Linked DNA regions of Homo sapiens: all the other regions are linked to region 1. The links come from fine-mapping of genetic effects on plasma protein levels. A gene starts in region 1. Each other region holds a variant in brackets. All regions are shown on one strand. Distances are between the middles of the regions. Region 1 holds the start of SEMA3G (semaphorin 3G). Region 2 overlaps SEMA3G (semaphorin 3G). Region 3 holds the start of WDR82 (WD repeat domain 82).

Region 1 (5,067 bases):
ATGGCATTTTGTATCCTTCATGCATCACCTAGTTTTGCCTGTTTTGCTGCATCCTTTCCATTTCTGGGCTTTTGCTTGGATAGTGCTTCCTCCATGAAGCCTCCCTTGATTTCCTCCATCAAGAGCAATCACTGGAGCATCTTCCACTGCTCCTGCTTCTTTATATTGTGTTTGCCTGGTTACTGCTAGCGTCCTCAAGAGGCTGCTGTTTCTGCTGGGTGGCCCTGCTACCCCAACACAGGGCCTGACACAGCGAGTTTGGGGGCCTCCTGCAGTTCCTTCTTTGTCCACTAGATGACACACGATGCCCGTGTCTGGGCCCATTGATCCTCGAATTCGGAGCACCCTTGTGGTCTTTCCCACCTGCAGCTGGCAAGCAGGGGGGCCTTTAGAGACGATCCCTACCCTCTGCCCCCAGGCCTGGAAAACTGAAGCCCAGAGAAGGAGAGGACCTGACTGAGGCCACACACATTAACAGTAGAGTTCGGACTCCCAGCCTGCCACAGGCTCTTTCCGCAGTGTGGAGTAGGCTGCCCCCACACCCTTCCCCAGTCGACCCAGGCTTCCCTGCAGCCCCTGCTGGGTGTCTGGCTGAGCTGAGACCCCAGGATGGGCTGGCAGGCTGAGGAGTGTTGGGCCTCCTGCCCGCCGCTGGTGGTCACATGCTGGCTGAAGGGCTGCCTAGCTCAGTCTCCAGTTAGAAGTTGGCCCCAGCTTGGGCAGTGTGCTGGCCACACCTCCCCAGGGAAACAGAGACAGAAGCAGTCCACTCCAAGGTCCCAGGATATGGTCACCCTGACAGCAGCCCCTGCGCAAGCCCACTCATCAGGTTATGAAGGCTGCTTACACCCAGGGTGGCTGGTCCCTGGCCCTGGGAGGAAGAGGCAGACCCAGAGATGGAAGGGCCTTGGCCAAGGCTCTCCAGCAGGGCCAGAGGCAGGGCTGGGCTGAGCTCCATCACTGGCCTCTGTGGGCAGCCCCTTGCCCACCTCCAGGCCAGCCCCCTGCTGAAGAAGGCATGTGTGAGTGAAGGGAGCTGGGGACAGGGAGGCAGAGTTGTAGGTCTCTGAGACCTGTCATGCTGACCCAAGAAGCCAACCTGTTTCCATTTCAGGATTGAGGTAGGGGAGGAGGGTGGGGTCCCCATACTCCCAACAACGCCCAGAAGCAAAGGAGGGTCCCAGGAAGGGGCAGAGCTGAGCTGGACCCATTCTCAGCCTGCTCTGTGGCCTGGGCCAGGTCCTTCCCTCTCTGAGTGCCCCGCAAGTTCCCTGACCACCATCAGAGGGCCCAGGCCGGTCCATGTGGGAGGCCCAACCTGCAGGAGCTGTTAGAATCCTGGGAACTCAAACTCCAGCTCAAAATTAAAATCTCTTTAGTGCCCAGGGCCTCAGGTTCTGAGTGTAGGGTTCTGGGGTGGGGTGAGGTGGCGACTGTTCTGGGGCAGGGAGCATGGGGAGGTCCCGTCACTCACCCCAGATTCAGGCCCTCAGTCCCATTTCCCCTTTGGCCCTCTTCTGTGGCTTTCTGTGCCCCCCGCCACCCAGTCAGTATTCAGGGTGGGGGAAGTGACCTCTAAGAGATCATAGGTGTCTGTAGGGCCTATGGGGCATGGGGTCCCTGGGAAGAACCATCACTGACCTGGGGAAGCTCTGGACCCTGAGTCTCTGGAAGGACTGGAGGCCTGAGGGAGGCAGGGCAAGGGGAGGTTCCCTCGGCATGGAGTCCCCTGATGCCCCTGTCCCCTACCCCAAAGCAAGCCTGGTGAGCTGAGATGGGGCATGTAGATGTGGGGAGAGGCTGGGGTGCCTGGAAGCCAGATGGGGACAGGCCTGGGTGGAAGAGGCTGGGCAGTCATCTCTTGCTGGCTCTATGAAGTGTTGCCGGACCTCAAACACCTGTCTAGGACATGGCGCCCCTTGGGCTGGGAATGGCCCTCCACCCTTACCCAGGGGAGCTGGAGAGTCTGGCCAAAGCTTCAGGGGGCTGGAATATCCTGGAATTGGGGCAGGGCCAGTTTGGAAGGTCTCTGCTGTGGGCAGTGGAGGGGCAGAGAACAAGGCAGAGCCCAGCTAGGCCCCTACCCAGCCCATCAACTTTAACCTCTGATCCCTGACCTCCCTTCCAGGCTCTCTCCCCACTTGTCACTTTGCTGGAGCCTGGGGACCTGCATTTGTGGACATCTCTGTACACATGGCCTGTGCCCTAGCTGGGAAGGTCTTCCCAATGGGGAGCTGGCCAGTGTGGCACAAAAGCCTGCACTGGGCCAACAAGGTGGAAGGAGAAGCGGCAGGTGGACGGCAAGGCCCCAGCCTCCTTCTCTCCTCCGCCCCTCTTCCCGCCCAGGACTGGGTGGAGCCACTGCCTTATAAGTGGTGGCCTGGTGGCAGCAGAGCAAACTACAACCGGCGGCCAGCGGGACCAGAGGGCGGCTCTGCAGGCAGGCGGCAGCGGTGCCCTCAGTTCCCCAGCATGGCCCCCTCGGCCTGGGCCATTTGCTGGCTGCTAGGGGGCCTCCTGCTCCATGGGGGTAGCTCTGGCCCCAGCCCCGGCCCCAGTGTGCCCCGCCTGCGGCTCTCCTACCGAGGTACCAGCCCCTGCGTGCCCTGTTTGTGTGCATGTGCCCTGTTTGTGTGTGTGCGCTCTGTTTGGGTGCATGTGCCGTGTTTGTGTGCATGTGCCCTGTTTGGGTGCGTGTGCCGTGTTTGTGTGCATGTGCAGTGTTTGTGTGCGTGTGCCGAGTTTGTGTGCGTGTGCCGAGTTTGCGTGTGCCGTGTTTGTGTGCGTGTGCCGAGTTTGTGTGCGTGTGCCGAGTTTGCGTGTGCCGTGTTTGTGTGCGTGTGCCCTGTTTGTGTGCGTGTGCCCTGTTTGGGTGCATGTGCCGTGTTTGTGTGCGTGTGCCCTGTTTGGGTGCGTGTGCAGTGTTTGTGTGCGTGTGCCGAGTTTGTGTGCGTGTGCCCTGTTTGGGTGCGTGTGCCGAGTTTGTGTGCGTGTGCCATGTTTGTGTGCGTGTGCCCTGTTTGGGTGCGTGTGCCCTGTTTGTGTGCGTGTGCCCTGTTTGGGTGGCTTGGGCTCTTGGGTGCCTGGTCAGCTGTAGGGGAGGGAGCCTCTCCCTGCACAGCTCTCGGGGAGTGGGAGGGAGGCAGGTCCTGGGAGACAGGACCAGGGTGGCGGTGGGAGGCACCTGAGGGGGAGTGCTGAGAAAGGGACAGATGGAGACCCTGAGAGAGCTCAATAAAGATGGGGAGGAGACAGAGGAAGGGACCAGGCAGGGGAGAGTGACAGAGAGGGTGGGGCTGAAGGGTCTGTCTGGGCTCAACTGGCACTTTTTGCCCAGGGTGGCCAACGGGAGAGCAGGCAGCATGCTATCCCTTGGTCCTGGGGCCACAGAGAAGGGGAGGACCCCCCTTGCAGCCCACTTCCCAGAGTGGGCTTGTTCATGTGCTCCTGCACCCAAGAAGCGCCCCAGCCCAGGGGGAGTTTCACCTCCCCTTTTTGCACATCCCAGCCTGGGGGTTCCTGTGTTCTACCCTAGACATGTGAGCCGGCTCAGGCCTCCACGGATGGGCCCAGGGAAGGCCCGAGACAGGCTCTTGGCAGATCCTTCCTGAGGAAACCAGAGGGGTGACCACCTTCCCCTGGGAAGCCCAGTCTGCTGGGGGAGATGGCGCTCGTCCCTGGAGAGGCTGAGGGGAATGTGGTCTTGTTCCGGGAGCTGTGGTTTTGCGGGGAGGTCAGACTGCTAGAAAAAGCCCCAAATAGGGAAAGTTCCCCAAGGTACTGTCATCCATGGAGGGCTTCCCGGAAGAGACCGTTGATGAGTTTTGGGGGTGGAATGGGTGTTGGGTAGAGGTGCTTCCGTAGGGAAGGCATAGGACACTCTGGGCCTTCCCAAAGGTGGCCAGCACCCTCTTCCTGCCACATCCTACTGCCCCCATTACCTCCACCTCCCTAGCCAAGCCCGGAGGACCTACCTCAGGATCCTCAACTCCTGGGACCGATGTCCCCAGACAGCTCCCCGCTCTCATCTCTGGGGTGGGATAGCCAGCATCTGTGGGGAGAAAATTGTCTTTGGCCGCATCCCTGGACTGGAGGTGGGAGCCCTTCCCGGCCATACCTTCCCTTTTCTGCACCCAGGCCATTGCCAGGGGTCCCCTCTGCTGGGAACAGTTTCGCCTGCTGGCCCACCCTCCAGCTGAGCCAGGCGGCCTGCAAAGACTCCCGCCCTTCCTCCAGGATCTTCCAGCACTTTGCTCTAGTTTCTGCTGGTTGGGGCCTTCTTCCCTGGGGACTGGGTAGGGCACAGATGGGACAGTGGGAAGATGTTAGCTGCATGATGAAGGGCTAAGGAATGGAGGGGTGGGAGGTAGGCCCCAGGGTAGGCTGGGCCAGGTGGGAGGCTCTGAGCCTCCCGTCCCACCTGTCCCCAGGAGCCATGGTCCGAAAGCCTTCCAGCACCATGTGGATGGAAACATTTTCCAGATGTGAGTGTGTCAGGGGTGGATGCTCAGCCGGGGCCTCCACCTCCACTCCTTGGCTGGGGAACTAGGCTGAGCTGTGGCCCTGATCTGCCTCCCCATACATCCTCCTAGACCTCCTGTCTGCCAACCGCTCTGCCATCTTTCTGGGCCCCCAGGGCTCCCTGAACCTCCAGGCCATGTACCTAGATGAGTACCGAGACCGCCTCTTTCTGGGTGGCCTGGACGCCCTCTACTCTCTGCGGCTGGACCAGGCATGGCCAGATCCCCGGGAGGTGAGCTGGACTGGCAGGGAAGAGGGTCTGTTTGAGAACTGGGCACCTCCAGATGGGAGGCCAGATGGGGAAACTGAGCCTGTGAGATCAGGGGAGGACCTGAGGTCAGCGGGGCTGTGTTCCAGGTCCTGTGGCCACCGCAGCCAGGACAGAGGGAGGAGTGTGTTCGAAAGGGAAGAGATCCTTTGGTGAGTGCTGTCGGGAGGGATGGTCCCCCGACCTGACACCCTGCCCTGACCCCCAGGACAATCCGTGACCACGCCCCAGGTACCTCTACCAGGGGCATTTGGAGCAGATCTTGAGGGCTTTTGAAG
Region 2 (8,636 bases), 12 kb after region 1:
GGGAGGGGCAGGAGTGGATTGATTACAGGAGGGGCTCTCCCTCCAGCCTGGGAACTGGGGGAGGCCAGCCTTGGGCCAGCTGTTGGGCTGGGCACTGAGAAGATTCCCCAGGGGAGGAGGGGAGCAACAAGATGGTGTTTCACAACACTAGCTAATGGCTCAAGCAATCCACCCCCAACACACAGATGTGCAGACTAAAACCCACACAGGGTCCAGGCCAGAGGCGGGCTGGGATCAGGGCGGCACTCCCACTTCCCACGCTGTGATGGGCGATCAGCCCACCCTGGGCTGGGGCTGTCAGCTCGCACCGTTGGGGGAATGAACGGTTCAGACCAGGATGGGAAGGCCCTGTGTGTGTCTCTGTGTGTGTGTGCGTGCACGTGCATGTGTGCGTGGGCACACGCACATTGTATGTGTGTAGCATAGGGAGTTTCTGAAGCCCAGTTCTGGGCCAGGGGGCACAGCCCCTCCCTTGAGAAAAGCCTGTAGATGGGATGGTACCTCCAGAAGGGCTAAGGGGATAACATCTTAGCCCCTATGTTCCTTGGGAATGTGTGCCAGGGCCCTCTGAGGCCAAGATTGGAGTCCTCTGACTAAGGGAGAAACCAGCCAGTCAAATCCTTGAGAAGGCCCCTTCCTGGGCTATGGGAAGGTGAGGCCCCACCTGAATTAGCTGGTGGTCTAGAGGAGGCCCAGACTGCCACGCTGCTGGTCCCCTCCTGGGAAGGGGAGAATAGGGCAAGAAGTGCCCAGGCACTGGGCCCCAAGGATGGCAGAAAAGCTGGGGCAGAGAAGCCGATGGTAAACTCCCACCTTGCACCCTACTCACGCCCTCCCGCCCGCATGGCAGGTGAAGACGGACGAGCGAGTCTTGCACACGGAGCGGGGGCTGCTGTTCCGCAGGCTTAGCCGTTTCGATGCGGGCACCTACACCTGCACCACTCTGGAGCATGGCTTCTCCCAGACTGTGGTCCGCCTGGCTCTGGTGGTGATTGTGGCCTCACAGCTGGACAACCTGTTCCCTCCGGAGCCAAAGCCAGAGGAGCCCCCAGCCCGGGGAGGCCTGGCTTCCACCCCACCCAAGGCCTGGTACAAGGACATCCTGCAGCTCATTGGCTTCGCCAACCTGCCCCGGGTGGATGAGTACTGTGAGCGCGTGTGGTGCAGGGGCACCACGGAATGCTCAGGCTGCTTCCGGAGCCGGAGCCGGGGCAAGCAGGCCAGGGGCAAGAGCTGGGCAGGGCTGGAGCTAGGCAAGAAGATGAAGAGCCGGGTGCATGCCGAGCACAATCGGACGCCCCGGGAGGTGGAGGCCACGTAGAAGGGGGCAGAGGAGGGGTGGTCAGGATGGGCTGGGGGGCCCACTAGCAGCCCCCAGCATCTCCCACCCACCCAGCTAGGGCAGAGGGGTCAGGATGTCTGTTTGCCTCTTAGAGACAGGTGTCTCTGCCCCCACACCGCTACTGGGGTCTAATGGAGGGGCTGGGTTCTTGAAGCCTGTTCCCTGCCCTTCTCTGTGCTCTTAGACCCAGCTGGAGCCAGCACCCTCTGGCTGCTGGCAGCCCCAAGGGATCTGCCATTTGTTCTCAGAGATGGCCTGGCTTCCGCAACACATTTCCGGGTGTGCCCAGAGGCAAGAGGGTTGGGTGGTTCTTTCCCAGCCTACAGAACAATGGCCATTCTGAGTGACCCTCAGAGTGGGTGTGTGGGTGCGTCTAGGGGGTATCCCGGTAGGGGGCCTGCAGGGAGCCAGAGGGTGGAAATGGCCTCTAAGCTAGCACCCCGTAAGAAGAGCCTACCTGACCGACTTGGGGAGGGAACACAGAGGTGTTGGGAAGGTGGAGCAACAATGCACCTCCCCTCCTGTCGCGCCGTGATATCTTGGTGGCTCCCTGCCACTGCCCACCGCCTCTTCTCCATCTGAGAATCACGGAGAGGTGTAGATAATCTAGAGGCATAGACTGCTAGAGCCCCCAGGGATCTGGGGTGGTCAGGGCTCAGGCTTCACTTTGTAAACCAGGTGGGGGCATCTCACAGCCTGACTTCCCTTCCCCAGGCCAGGGTTGCTGGGATGCCTGCCCCTCCTGAGAGGACCCCCTCCCCATTGTCAGGCTCTCCATGTCCACGAGCGGGGAGGGGTGGGTTCTGGGGCATTGTTGTCCCTTGTGTCTGTGGACTAGAGATAGGGTGGGGGAGCTGGGGAAGGGTGCAGGCGGGAAGAGTGGGCTGTCTTTCCCAGGGTGATGCAAGCATGCCGCAGCCCTGGAGGCTGGGAATGTGGAGGCTCTGTGAGCCCTGCAGCCCTCAGAATCAGGGCCAGGGATGCAGAAGATTGAGAGGATATGGAGATGGATAGAGGGCAGGAGACCCTTAGGATAGATTGTGGGACCCAGGCAGGAACAGGTGTCCACAAGAACTCAGGATGGCATCAGTTAGCTCAGAAGCCACCTGGAAGACCCAGTGTTTCCATCTCTGGAATCTCTGTTTTATGCTAAATGGATTTAGGAAGACTGTTTTTCTTTTAAGGGGGAAACAAGGTAGAGAAAAGGACGAAGAAGTGTAAGTCCCGCTGATTCTCGGGGGTAAGGCTCGGATGGCAAGGACGCGTTCTGCCTGGGCATGTAGGGGAGGTGTTTTTGCCATCACCAGTTTCTCAGGCTGGGGAGCACAGAGGGGAGGAGGAGGACTAAATGAAAAGTTGTTCCCAGCCTGCACATGAACACATTCATGACACACAAAACTGGCTGGAAGGAGATAAGAGCACTGGGTTTGAGATTCCCTCCATTAAAACAACCAAGACAAAGAAAGGAGGGGAAAAAAAGATAAAAAGCAAGCCAGGGTTCCCTGCCCTATTGAAACTCAAACCCAGACTGCCTTGGGTTTTATCTTTCCCTTACCCCTGGCACCTCCAGAGAACTGGGACCTGAAATAGTCCCTCCGTTCTCCCCTTTGACCATGTAATAAATGAACCAGAAGCACTGAGATTAACCTATCAACGCCCTGAGAAGCCTTCCAGCCTGCGGTGCTGTCTGCTGGGAGGTCAGCTGGTCAAGGCAGAGGAGGAGAGGAGGAAAGGATGGGGGCTGAAGAGCAGAAGGGAGGGGAGACAGAGGGGATTAAAGAGGGGAGGAGAGAGTGCAGAGCTCCAGGAAAGGGTATCAGAGCTGCAGCCAGCTCTGCCCTCTACCCTAGGGAGGCCAGAAAGACACAAACAGCCCTCCGGGCCTTTACGCTGGACTCTGGCTTGGCAGGCTCCAGGCAGGGTCCTCTGGGAAGTTACTCTAGAAAACGAAGGGAGGAGGAGCACAAGATCCTCAGCAACGAACACCTGCACTTAGAAAAAGTGGACAGCTTCTGCCAACCACACCCTACCCATGGTACTGTATGCTATTAACTCCTGGAAACGCCCCGTAAATGCGAGTTGTTTTTGTATTTGTGTGTTGAGATGGGCCTTGTGGTTTCTCTG[T/C]ACTCAGAGCACATTTCTTGTAATTACTATTGTTATTTTTATTGTCATGACTGCCCCTGAGCTCTGGTGAGAAAAGCTGAATTTACAAGGAAAGGGATGAAGTTAATATTTGCATCACATAATTATATCATTACTGTGTATCTGTGTATTGTACTAAATGGACTGATGCTGCGCACATGAGCTGAAAATGAAGAGCCCTCCCATCCATTCCATGAGAAAGAAGGTCACCCTGAGTGACTTCTGTTTCATGATTTCCCAAACAGGTTTTAGAGCTGGAAAAGGACTTAAAGAAAGAGACTGGGTGGTGCTTTCTAGAAAGGAGGAAGATGGGTATCAGGGGAAGGAAGGAGTTAGAGGGCTTTGTACAAAGCCGAGATTGCTCATTAAATGAGGAACATCCTGGCCTGTGGGCTTGTAAGACTGACCTTCTTGGGACTTCAGGAGGATCTTGAACTAAAAGAAAAAAAAAAAACACTGGCAAAGGGCAGCTGGGCCCGTAGGCAGCTCTGCTCCTTTTTCACAACAACACTTGACATTTGTCACAGTGACACTTGGCATGGTTCCTGCCTTCATCCCAAGCCACATACCAATGGATATTAAGTCCTCATGGCTGGGGGACTGGGGCTGTGCTGTGGGGACTGTGGCTTCTGGAAAGGAGGGGAGGCCCCGAACATCTGACCTATTGGGCACACTGCAGGAGGTCCGTCTGGGCATGGCTCCCACTCCCCACTGACATCAACACCTCAGCCCAAAGAGCAGAATCCACTGATGCTAGAGGAAGATGGAAGGGTCATAACCCCACCTTCCCAGGGAGACTTCCCTGGGCCTCTTGCCTGAACAGGCCCCTCGATCCATGCTGTAGACTAGGGGTCTTAACAGGTCAGTCATAAGTCTCATCTTGCAGTCTGGGCCCTGGAGCTGGCCTTTCCTTTTGTTCCTTGCCCCCTCCACGATCACTTAGGCCTGACAGAACCTGAAACCCTGTCACCCCACCCCAGGAAGCATCATCACCTCTGACTGAGAAGTGTCACCAGGGCACCCACCTGGCACAGTGTGCTGGGCTGGGAAGGGTGTGCGAAGGCGGCCTCCAGAGCCCCCTTCTTCCCTCTTGCATCACTCTCCCAAGGGTGGTCCGGAAGACCCCTCTGGACCAGACCCCTTCCTGGTCCACACCACCTCCCCCTCCCATCTCAAGCCCTATTTCCTGCCTCAGCGATTTCAGCCTCTCTCTGTTGTCTTGTCACAGCTCTTTCCTCTGCGTCTAATGCTTCCTCTGCTCTTTGGGACTCTGTTCCATGACTTCCCAAACAGGTTTAGAGCTGGAAAGGGGCCTAGAGAATGAGACTGGCCCAGTGGTTCCAAGAGATAACTATAATCCCACGGGACCCTCCATGATCTCGTGGTCCCCGTGTTCTGCCCCTTTGGCCCTGACAGAGCTGAAATGCTGCCTGCTGGCTTGCCCTGTGAAGGCCCTGAGAAGTCCTGTGATGATCTCTTGCTAATGTGCATGCCTACTATGTGCTATGTGCTTTTCCAAAACATTTGGTTCTCTCTTTTTTTTTTTCCCATGGAGCAGCTAACATCTCATGTTTCTAACATTTTGAAGAACACACTTTGGAAAAATGTTGATTAGGTTAATTCCCTCCCTTAACATGTGAGCTTGATTAATTAGTAATTGCCTTCCCAGCTTGTAGGCTCTGGAAGCCCCAGCCTCCTGATGAATAGCCATATCTTGGTTTCCTATGACCCTCGCCAGAGTAGACTCTGCTACCCCGGGACAGGGCTGCCAAGCGGCCAATCTGCTGCCCTTTGGGCCTGGACTGTGCTCTGTTCCCGGCTCTCGTGCTCCCATAACCAGCCTATTTCTGGCCCCTCCTGTGTCTGTCATGGTCCTCTGTGGAGGGCTAGCATTCACCCCTAGTCTGTGGCTGTCCTTCCATCCAACAGACTCGTTTCTAAGAAGGTGAGGGGCAGGAAGGAGTCAGAATAAGAGAGGAAAACAGCAGTTTCCACTTTCTCAAATGACTCCTGGGCTTTTCTTTCATTGGCTAAGCTTGGGGTCAGGTCCTAGACAGCCCTAGAATCCCCTGCTTGGAGGAATGGTCAGGTAGCAGCCCCCAAGAACCTGGTGTACCTCCAGCCAGCCTGTCCTCTTTGTGGGCTGGCAGGGGGTCCAGCTGCAGCTCCAGCCAGTTGGGCCCCAGAAGACTGGCTCACATGCCTCTGGAAATCCAGCAAACAGAGGCACCTCTGGCCAACCACATCTTAGAGCTAGGGGGTAGTTGCTCAGAAATAGCCCAATTTCCATCCCAGTTAAGGTCCCATCCCAGCCTCACCTAAGTCTTGGATTGCAGTGGGTTCTACAAGAATAAAGTTCAACACACACCAGGAACAAATTCCCAGGGTCTTCTAAGACTCTAAACTCGGAAAGAGGGACAGTGGGTAGGGCTAGGTTTGGACACAATATCTGATAAGGTTGCCAGGCACGATGGCTCACACCTGCAATGCCATCACTTTCAGAGGCCGAGGCAGGTGGATCACCTGAGGTCAGGAGTTCGAGACCAGCCTGGCCAACATGGTGAAACCCCTTCTCTACTAAAAATACAAAAATTAGCTGGTGGCACACACCTGTAATCCCAGCTACTCAGGAGACTGAGGCACGAGAATCATTTGAACCCGGGAGGTAGAGGTTACAGCGAGCTGAGATCACGCCACTGTACTCCAACCTGGGCAACAGAGCAAGACTCTGTCTCAATAAATAAATAAATAGATAAAAATCTGATAAGGTGCCTGGGAATTGTTGGGCCGCACCCTGGCTCTCCTTCCGTACTCAGCCATCCCTCGGATGTACAGGAGACGAGGCAAGGCAGCTGTGGCCCTGTGCCCGTTCCCACTGCCCAGTCCCTGGCCACCTTTGCTGGGGGTACCACTACTGGGCCCCTCTCCCTTAGAGACTGCATCCTAATGAAGCCTTTCACTTTCCTTGCTGGACTTCCATTAAGGAAACTCCTGGTTCCTCATGAAGCCTTTAAAAAAATTACTCTCCACTGAGGATGAGGGCTGCTGCAAAGTCTCCAGGGAGGCGGTGTAAGGGATATGGGGCTGTCTTTGGGCCAGGCCTCCAGCAGCTAGCTAATAGCCTGCACGCAGGGACACTGCTGATGGGAGGACTCAGCTGACCAGTCTTGACCTCTTTACCCCGGAGAGTATGATGACCAGAGTACCCCCTAATCCACCCAAAAGGGCCTGTTTCACTGCTGTGAGGAATGACCAGGGCAAAGGGACAGTTGCAGACTGATAGGATTCCAAAGTGACTCAACAGAGGCCTGGAACAGAGTCCAGGTGTCTACCACCAAATAGAGGGGACTGGACTCTGGACACATGAAGCCCAGATTGATGGAGGGCGAGCGGGCTCTGCTCTCACAGATGAAGGCATGGGGAATGACGTGGCACACCAGCCACTTGCTCTGTGGACATGATCTCATCTGTTCACCCCCCCACTCCTGCCCCCAACTGATAAGAATCTGGTGATGTTTCCTGTAGTCCAAGGGTCTCAGACAATGGTGTGAACGGCTGGCCCTACTGGAAAGGACATTGTTCAGGGAAGAAAAAACAACACACCAGCACAAAGCCAGGGCAGGACCTGCTGAAATGTAAGGGCCTGTTTACAAACCCATGATTTCTAAGGGGAAGAACACAATGGAGAATTGTTTTGGCGAGGCTGGTGTCTCCTCCAGTAGGCTCCTGGGGGCTGGGGATGGCTTTGATGGTCCAGACAGGTCTCAGATGCTCTGAAAAGGATGGATACTAATGGCGCGGATGCCTTCCTGTTTATTAGGGGTGTGTGCAGGGCAGGGTCAAGAAGCCAGTTTACACCAAAGACAAGGGGAAGGGGCTCCTGGGGCTTACCCCTTCCATCTGGACCTCATGCTGTCATGTTGCTCAGGGATCCCAGGGTTAGAGCAGGTTTGCTAGGGAGAAGTGAGGGCAAGGGTTTTTTGTTTTGGGAAAAAAATCAGTTCTTCAGTTTTTCTGTCATTTTTTGGAAAAATGTACAAGCCATGACACCTTTGCAAATAGCCAGCTCCTTTGGAATGGAGCTCCCTGGCTTAGTCACTAGGGAGACTTCTCACACCTGGGGGCCCCCATGATGCTGTGACTGGGAGCACATGGGAAACTGATGCTGTCTCCCTGGGGTCAGGGCCAGTGGAGGTGCTGCTTCTCATAGCATCCTCCCACCCTGCCCATAGAGGCTAGAGCCTTTGAGCCACCGTTTGAGCCACCACCCAGAGGTCCTGATGGCAGTGAGTGTGCATTCGTGTGGACAGGTACCTGTGCATGTGTGCATGTGGGAGGAGGGTGGGGCAGAAAAGGAATAGAACCATATCACACATTCCCCCTTGGGACTGGCAGTCGCCATTTTTGGTGGAGGAGAGGGCATCTGGATGCCTCTCAATGAGTAATTGGGAGATATTTTTGGTGGGTTAGGAGAGCCACTTTGGGTCTGGAGAGACTATGAAGGCAGTCTTGTCTAAGGATTTGACCTGTGACGGGGAGCTTTCAAACTCATCTCTAACCCCAACAGGAACGTGCCTCATGAATAAACTCGAACAGATGTGTTTAGAACAATTGAGGCGCAATAAGTCTTATGTAATCCCAAAACAGAAGCAAGATTTTCATAAGCCTTTCCCAGCCTTCCAGGTCTGAGGGTTTATAATCTTCATCGACATGCTAACAGTGCCCTCTGGTGTTTGGCAGCAAAACACAGGCTTATGAATACAGGGTATGGAGCATCCATCAGTTCTGTAGACATTAAACTGCCTCTGAACGTGGAGTCCTGGGCCAGGCATCATGAGGGGAAGAAAGGTTAATAAGACAGACAGGTCCCTGGAGCTTCTGATCTAGCAGGAAAGACAGACCCATAACTGTAGGACAGACAGAGAATGACATGGGCTATAACAGGGGGTACAAACAGAGACAGTAAGAGTGCCTAGAGATGAAGAAGTAGCCCTTAGGCTGTGTTTAACAGGCTGAAGATGGATGCCAGGACTCTCCAGGCTGAGCACCCCAGGCCCGGGCCCAGTGTTCTGAGGCAGCCAGAGAAGAAGGCCTGTGGGTGGGATGTCCTGGGAGATGCAGCTATGGAAGGCCCTGTTTGTAGAAGGTCTTG
Region 3 (8,636 bases), 170 kb after region 1:
GGGAAGGTCAGCTGTGTTGGAGGCAGGGTAAAGTGGAGCTGTGTCCTATGTAAGGGCTGTACAACACCTTAAAACTGGGAGGCCGAGGTGAGCGGATCACTTGAGGTCAGGAGTTTGAGACCAGCCTGGCCAACATGGCAAAACCCCGTTTCTACTAAAAATACAACAACAACAACAACAACAACAACAACAACAAATTAGCCGGATGTGGTGTCACGCACCTATAATTCCAGCTACTCGGAAGGCTGAGGTGGGAGAATTGCTTGAACCCAGGAGGTAGAGGTTGCAGTGAGCTGAGATCACACCACTGCACTCCAGCCTGGGTGACAGAGTGAGACTCTGTCTCAAAAAAAAAAAAAAAAAAATTAAAAAAAATAAAACATCTTAAAGCTATTTTTCTTGGAAGGAGGAGTTGGGGAGAGTAAAACAAAACACTAGGAAGCAGTTCAGCATGACTCTAGGCAAGCACTGATGAGAGGCCACTAAAGCTGTGTATGTTGGATTGTTTGGGAGTTTTTAAGCCTTAGGAAACAGTGCTGTAGTTTTAGAGACAGTGGCCTTGGCCCTGAGACTCTAGGCAGTTCCTTCTGGCTCTGAGCAGTCAAGGCTTATCTGGGAAGATTCCATCCTTTCCTTCCAGACTAAGAAGGTATTATTTACCGACAGTGGTCTTTGTTAAATGTGAATGATTTCTTGTCCTTTGCCCTGGAAACAGAACACAAGCTTTCCAGTGCTGAAGCAGAGTGTGAATCCAGACTTCAGTGCTTATTGGTTAAGTGACCCTGAGAAAGTTAACCTCTCAGAACTTCAGAGTCTTCATCACAGTATGTTTCCAGTGCATGTAGAAAGGCTCAGTGTTGTTGCTGTACTAGTCCTGGGTTGAGCCAGCTTCATGGGTGTGTGACTTGTATAGTCAGAAGGACCCTGCACTTCATTTAATATTCTGTTGTTGTCATCTTGAGATTCTTAGCAATTTTTTAACAAGGGGCCCTACAAATTGGGTAGTTAGTCCTGCTGCCAGGGAAAGATACTTTCTTTTTATCCAGGCCCCCGGTCCTGGAGTCTCAAGACCTCTCTGAGGAATTCCAGTAGAAGTGGACATACATTAGTAACTAAATTTATTTATTATTTCTGGTCATATTCATGTATATCCCACAAGATTTTCCATGCACACACTTAAATTCTGTCTAAATAAAAATGGCTTACTTCATCCTTGTAATATTTATTTTTTTTCTTTCTTTTTTTTTTGAGACAGAGTTTCACTCTATCGCCCAGGCTGGAGTGCGATCTCGGCTCTGCAACCTCCGCCTCCCGGGTTCAAGCAATTCTCCTGCCTCAGCCTCCCGAGTAGCTGGGACTACAGGCGCACACCACCATGCTTGGCTAATTTTTGTATTTTTTGGTGGAGTCGCAGTTTCACCATGCTGCCCAAGCTGGTCTTGAACTCCTGACCTCAAGTGATTCACCCACCTTGGCCTCCCAGAGTGCTGGGATTACAGGCATGAGCCACTGTGCCTGGCCCTTATCTGAGGAATTTAGAAGGGAGCAAAGACCACCTGGTAACCATCCAACAGGCCATCCAGAGGCAAAACTCCTTATCTGGGGAAATTAGAAGTAATTAAACTTCCCTAGTATCTAAAGTGGGCATCTGGTTCCAGGCCTCTTTCAACTTTTATAAGTAACTAAAATTTCTAGGCATCTCTGGAATGTCATGCTGAAACTAATTTTACAACCCTAAGCTCCTGCCTGAAGGTCCATAAATGCACCTAAGGAAAATCCACCAAGGCCCTCAGTCCTCTCGCTGGGGTGCCCCGCTGCACTCTTCTGCAGCGTTCTTTCTTTCTAAGAAATTTTCCTTTTTCAAACCTATACTGTTGTCAGTAAATTTTTTGCCAACCTGTGAGGCGACCACTTCCTGGTGCTGGGGCTCAGACACCTCACCAGGCATTTTGTGTTCTAGTGTTCTGCGTTTCCTCTTTGGCAATTAAGCTCACACACACACACACTCAACTGTCCCAAAGAAGAGAGTCACCTGATTCTAGTTATTCCGAGGGCTGTGTAAGCACTGATACACACACACACTGTCACACTTACACACATGCAACTGTCCCAAAGAAGAGAGTCACCTGATTCTAGTTATTCCAAGGGTTGAGTAAGACGTTAGTCAATCTCTAGGGAAGCCCTGCTGCTGGGCACTGGAGCTCAGAAATTTATCTCAAAGAATTAGAATTCATAAGGAGCTCTGTGTTTTGGAAAGAGGACACATTGTTTAGGACAGTTTCCATTCCAATTGTGCAGCATGAAATAGAAAAATTTAATAAGTGGGCCAATCAAGTATCTGGAATCCTTTGGATAAATTCATTTATTCAATTAATCCATACTGAGCTCTGGCTGGGCTCTGGACAAAATGGGAAGCAAAATTACTTTACAGCCATATAATAGAATAGTTTGTAGCCATTCAAAATGATTGTATCGATATTTATTGACCTGGAATATGTTCATAGTATGGGTAAACTTACAAACAATATATTATGAACCCAATAAAAATATATTTCAGGGATTGGCTGGGTGTGGTGGCTCATGCCTGTAATCCCAGCACTTTGGGATGGTGAGGCAGGCAGATCACCTGAGGTCAGCAGTTCAAGACCAGCCAGGCCAACATGATAAAACCTCGTCTGTACTAAAAATACAAAATTAGCTGGGCGTGGTGGCGGGCATCTATAGGAGGCTGAGGCAGGAGAATCACTTGAACCCAGGACATGGAGGTTACAGTGAGCTGAGAGCACGCCACTGCACTCCAGTCTGGGTGACAGAGCAGGAAAAAAAAAAAAAAAAAAAAAAAAAAAATATATATATATATATATATGTATATGAAAAAATCGGAAAGGTTCTACATCAAAATGGTAAATTTCGTGTTATATATATTTCACTATAATAAAAGATTGTAACAGTGGCTATCTCTGGATGCTGTTTTTATTATTTGTATTTTTTAGTTTTTTTGCAATGAATATGTGACAAGTAAAAGAATGACTACAAATAAAAGGAAACATAAAAAATTAAGTCTGATGCTCTTTTAAAGCCCATCTGATTCACTCTTGACTGCAGCTTTCTCTCCATCCACCCATCCACTGGAGCCGGCTTTCTGTGTCACTTTTTAAAGTCCATTTTTTTTTTTTTTTTGAGACGGAGTCTTGCTCTAATGCCCAGTGCAGTGGTGTGATCTCGGCTCACTACAACCTCTGCCTCCCGGATTCAAGCGATTCTCCTGCCTCAGCCTCCCAAGTAGCTGGGATTACAGGTGCCCGCCACTGTGCCCAGCTAATTTTTGTATTTTTAATAGAGACAGGGTTTCACCATTTTGGCCAGGCTGGTTTTGAACTCCCGACCTTGTGATCTACCCACCTCGGCCTCCCAAAGTGCCACCGCACCTGGCCTAAAGTCCATCCTTTAAGGCAACCATACTGTTGGGCTGGAAGCCAGGAGAGCCCCACTATAATAGGGCAGGGAGCCAGGCTAGGAATTGGAAACAGTAAGAATGCGAAACAGGATGAGGATTTGAAGACCCTCTTAAAAATGGGGGAAAAAAAAAAAGACTGCATTCCAAAAATAATGCAGAAAGTCAAGTCTTGGGAGGAAGGTTTGGTCTTAACGGTGAAATCTGGAAAAGGTATAGGAAGTACAATACTTGAAAAATACCCTGCAAAGATTTATTTTGGCTGGCAACATTCAGTAGATTACAGCTGTTTCTGTGGTTATTTTTGTAGATTAACATGGACCAAAATATGGCATCATCTTACTGGGTGTGTTCACTTCCCGACAGTTCTAGAACATGGTACTCGATCTGTCCTTGTTGCCTTCTAAACTATTCGAAGCAGACGCTGTATCAGACTTTCTAGCTTCTGAAATAAAGGCACAGGAATTACAGGGAAGCAGAGCAAGTGATCTGGGACGTGGAGGGTTTTTCTTCCATTGTGTGCAGTTTGGAAAGTTGCCATCTATTCAGGTTTCACTCAAACCGGCTTTTTCCAGACCCCAGAACAAATTGTAGCCAGAAGCTCTGCTCTTTGTCAGGAGGCAATTATACCCCAGACTTAGCCAGGAACTTGCCTCTTCCCTTAGAGAACAACTTCTCTTTATGTATAAGGATCCTGGCTCTCCTTTTACCCAGGGGGTTGGGATACAGCCTCTAGTTCTTTCTAGAAAGACCCCAACTGTCCCAGGGTTTCCATTTTGTTTTTTACCATTGCACAGGTCTCTGGATAATAACCTTCCTAATAGCGACTGAAATGTCTCACAGCCTTTCCTCGTTTTTGTTTCTCTTTAGCTAAAGAAAGCAAAAATAAATAATCCCCATCTTCATTGTTGGAAACCCCAGGCAATTAACCTTTTGAGGAGCTTCACACAAGATACAGATCTGTGAAGCCACATAGGTTGGCATTGAGTTTAACCCCTTGCCCAGAAAGTTAAGGTTAGGAAGCTTGGTTCCTATTTTCTGTTCAAATACTGCTTTCCTTTGTTAGAGATAAACTTTCTTTTAAGGCAAATAATCACTTATATGATAGAACCTTTAAAATAATCCTGTTGACTACAAACAGGATAGTGCAACTCTTCCAAATCTTGAATGTGGTGGTGACTGCATGACTGTGTATGGGTGTCAGAACATAAAACTAGCCACTAAAAAGGCTAATTTTTGGGGGGAAACCGTCTGCTCTGTCGCCCAGCCTGGAATGCAGTGGCACGATTTCGGCGCACTGCAGCCTCCGCCTTTCT[C/G]AATTCTCGTGCCTCAGCCGCGCCATCATGCCCGGCTAATTTTTTGTATTTTAGTAGAGGTGGGGTTTTGTCATGTTGGCCAGGCTGGTCTCAACTCCTGAGCTCAAGCGATCATCCCGCCTCGGCCTCCCAAAGTGGTGGGTTTAAAGGCGTGAGCCACCGCGCCCGGCCTAAAAAGGCTGATTTTTACTGTACCTAAAGTCTACCTCGATTAAGAAAACGAGGCCGGGTGCGGGTGAGGTCAGGAGTTCGAGACCAGCCTGGCCAACATGGTGAACCCCCGTCTCTACCAAAAATACAAAATTAGCTGGGCGTGGTGGCGCGCGCCTGAGCGAGAGACTCCATCTCCAAAAAAAAAAAAAAAAGTAAAGAGGTCGAAGCTGTCTAAGCGGACGCTGCGGTGGACTAGCGGTCAAGCTTGCCTGCGAGCGGCTCACCTGAGTCACCCCCAAAACCGGCCTCCAGCAGCATACCCGACCCTGCAGTACCCCCTCCCACGCAGCCTGCGATCGGGACGCCTGCAGGAGGCGCCAGAGTCTTCGCGGGGGTTGCAATCCCGCGCAAGGGCCCCCGGCTCCCAAGGCATCCGCAACCTTCCGATCCCCCGGGAAGGCCCTGCACGTCTCGGCCGCTCCCTGCCAGCAGCCCGCCCCGCCACTACACTCCGCCGCGGCCGCGCTGACGTCACCACCCCGCCTCCCCGCCTTGCTCCGCCGTTCCCGCCCCGCCCCCTTTCCCGGCGTGCGCCGCGGCTGAGGCTCCTCGCCCTCAGCTTCTGCCTGTCGCCCCAAAATGGCGGACACAATGAGCCGGCGACGCGCCGGTTGTCCGTGAGGTGGCTGTGAGGACGAACGGTCGGCGAGGCTCCACAGTCCAGGCAGAAGACCCTCGACCAAGCAGGAAGAAGAGGAGGAGGCGGCCCAACTGTTGGCCGACTTCCCGCTAGCCGCCGGCGCGGCGCCCGCCCCGCCTGGGTTGGCCCCTCGGCAGCCCGCCCGCTCGCCGCCGGGCCCCGCCCCGGCCCTGCGCCGCCGCTGCCTTCCCCAGCCGCCGCCATGAAGCTGACCGACAGCGTGTTGCGGAGCTTCCGCGTCGCTAAGGTGTTCCGCGAAAACTCGGACAAGATTAACTGCTTCGATTTCAGCCCCAACGGCGAGACGGTCATCTCGAGTAGCGACGACGACTCCATCGTGCTCTATGACTGCCAGGAGGGCAAGTGAGTGCGGCGGAGGCCCTGGGCCCGAGTCTCAGTGCCTCCCTCCGGTGGCCCAGCACAGGTCCCTCGGCCTGCCCTCCGTCCCGACTTCAGCCCCCAGCCTATTTTGCACGCGTTCCTGCCAGGGCCGCCTCCACCCCGCAGCCGTCCAGGAGACCTTTTATTTTTTTCTTCTTAAAAAAAAAAGATAACGATAGTCATAATTTTATAATATTATTTGTATGTCTTCGGTCTCCTTTGAGCGCTATGCATCACTTGCCAAACCCCACCTTGACCTTGACCTTTAAACGCCCGGTCCGCCCACCCTGGGCCCACCAGGTAGCGTTTTCAGCTCCTCAGGCTGTCAAAGGTGCTGGTCTGCTCCGGCCTCGACGCAGGACTGCAGGGGCTGCTTTTCTGCCTCCTTCGGCAGCGTCAGCTCTCTCTTGTGCTCTCTCCACTGTGACCTCGATTCCGCCCTGGCACTCCGCCCATCCCCTGCCCCTCAGCTTCCCGCGGCCTTTCTGCCGTCAGACCGCGTGGGTTGCACTTCTTAGCTGTCAGGATTTATTTGTTGTGCCCCTTTGAGCCCCCTTGCTTTTTCTTCCTGCTCCTAGCCTTTCTCTTACTCATTCAGACTTGGTGCCCACGTTCATAAGTGAACTTTTCAGCAACATCTAAAACTTCCTTTTTGCCACACACAAACGAACTTGGTCGTCCCATCCTGACCTGAATGTGAGCTTCCGTTAAAACAAAGCAAGCATCGTAGAACAATTTCAGGTTTCCTTTCATACTTTTTTTTTTCTATTACACTTTTTGGTCCACTTTGAATTCCAATTCTGATCATGAAACTTTTATGTTGCCACAAGTCATCTGGAGACCCACCATACCTGCATCTTTTCGCAAAATCTAAGCACAGCACTTTGCCTTTTTCCCTGGGGGTCCTTGTCAGCCCTCCTCACCGCACGCCTGTGGACTTGCAGCTCCTTGGAGCCAAAAACTAGTTTAGATTAAATTCGTTTTACCCTTAGCCACCTTCCCCAAGAAGGCTTGCTGATGTTTGGTTTAATTCGGTGGACCCTGGTTTTTTCAGACTTGATTTTGTCACCTAGTAACAGATATTATTATTATTATTATTATTATTATTATTATTATTTGAGATCTTGGGTTTTTCTCCACCTTCTCCAGCTGTTCCTTTTTCCTTTTTTTTTTTTTAGACTGGTGTCCTTCTTTTGGAACATATCTCTTCATTTGTGAATTTGATTATCTGAAGTAATGCTAGTTTGGACTGAGCTATAATGGTATCCCCCCAGTTTTTTTCCCCACTGGGGCTGTGAGAAAGTATTATGTAACCGGCTCTGGATCTGCCTGCAGTTTGTGGCAGAGTGGTCTGCAGTGGTGGTCTTAAGGAAGAGGGAATTGTTAGCTGGACAAATAGTTATTTGAGTCAGTGTTACTCATTGAGTAGATGGATTTCTGTCCTGGTCTGGTCACTTGAATCAGTTTAGAAGACGAAGTAACATTTAAAGGTGTGGTAGTAGGGTCAGCATTGTGGGGTCCTGGAGGAGTAATTTGAAGCTGGCTTGCATGAAATGTATAGTGCTTATGCACAGATTAGAACCTCTTCCCAGAACCTGAGGGTGGAGATGTATATCCTCATTTAAAGGAAATGAAGGTTGTTATAGCATTTCTTTGCAGTTTGTCCCCAAATTTGGCGTAATTTTGATTTGGGAAGGATGACCTTGACATGAAGTCCTGTCTTTCTTTTTTTTGTTTTTTTTTTTCGGGTGGGGGACGGAGTCTCTCTCCGTCGCCCAGGCTGGAGTGTAGTGGCGCGATCTTGGCTCACTGCAACCTCTGCCTCCCGGGTTCAAGCGATTCTCCTGCCTCACCCTCACAAATAGCTGGGATTACAGGCGCCTGCCACCATACCCTAACTTTTGTATTTTTAGTAGAGATGGGGTTTCACCATGTTGACCAGACTGGTCTTGAACTCCTGACCTCAAGTGATCCACCCGCCTTGGCCTTCCAAAGTGCTAGGATTATAGGCATGAGCTGCTGTGCCTGGCCAAATCCTGTCTTGTTAAAAGTAAAATGCTAGTTTTGTGACATAAGGCAGTTTATTTACTCGTAGCATTTTTACATAATTAGAAACTAACAAAGTTACAGTGTTTCAAAGAACTCCCATATGATTCAATAACTGGTTACATTTTCTGCATTTGCTTCATGACTGTAGGTAAATATTTATATGTACTGTGTGCCTCCCCCCACCTTTAGAGTTGGAGGTATCAAGCCCCTTTATCCCTAAACACTTCAACATGGATTTTCTTTCTTTTTTGAGATGGAGTCTCGCTCAGTCGCCCAGGCTGGAGTGCAGTGGCGTGATCTTGGCTCACTGCAACCTCCGGCTCCTGGGTTCAAGCGATTCTCCTGCCTCAGCCTCCTGAGTAGCTGGGATTACAGGTGCATGCCACCATGCCTGGCTAATTTTTGTATCTTTAGTAGAGGCAGGGTTTCACCATGTTGGTCAGGCTGGTCTTGAACTCCTGATCTCGTGATCTACCCGCCTCAGCCTCCCAAAGTGCTGGGATTCCAGGCATGAGCCACTGCGCCCGGCTCAACGTGGATTTTCTAAGCACAAAGACATTCTTATGTAACCAGAGCACAGTTA

What was found. PIP is the posterior inclusion probability: the model's chance that the variant is causal. Protein levels are from the aptamer-based SomaScan assay of Sun 2018.
Region 2: its variant is fine-mapped to the plasma level of the SEMA3G protein (Sun 2018, PIP 0.95).
Region 3: its variant is fine-mapped to the plasma level of the SEMA3G protein (Sun 2018, PIP 0.95).

Annotation. Positions count from the first base shown.
Region 1 is chr3:52,442,433-52,447,499 of GRCh38, reverse strand. It overlaps SEMA3G (semaphorin 3G), which reads left to right and starts at 2,397. Exons shown (of 16, transcript NM_020163.3): 1 at 2,397-2,587; 2 at 4,593-4,753; 3 at 4,879-4,941. The coding sequence starts at 2,473. RefSeq lists enhancers at 1,547-2,423, 2,424-3,300.
Region 2 is chr3:52,428,288-52,436,923 of GRCh38, reverse strand. It overlaps SEMA3G (semaphorin 3G), which reads left to right. Exons shown (of 16, transcript NM_020163.3): 16 at 851-3,889. The coding sequence ends at 1,321. Among named protein-coding and RNA genes, the nearest start is that of SEMA3G, 12 kb to the left of the region's middle. RefSeq lists a silencer at 6,791-6,951 and enhancers at 8,131-8,230, 5,809-8,636. The variant T/C (reference allele first, on the strand shown) is at 3,467.
Region 3 is chr3:52,275,551-52,284,186 of GRCh38, reverse strand. It overlaps WDR82 (WD repeat domain 82), which reads left to right and starts at 5,538. Exons shown (of 9, transcript NM_025222.4): 1 at 5,538-5,986. The coding sequence starts at 5,826. LOC107986086 (a long non-coding RNA gene) reads left to right here. Exons shown (of 3, transcript XR_001740699.2): 3 at 1,256-1,869. RefSeq lists enhancers at 4,915-5,546, 6,016-6,115, 6,526-6,605, 6,626-6,675, 6,179-6,811 and silencers at 5,276-5,565, 5,746-5,825. The variant C/G (reference allele first, on the strand shown) is at 4,771.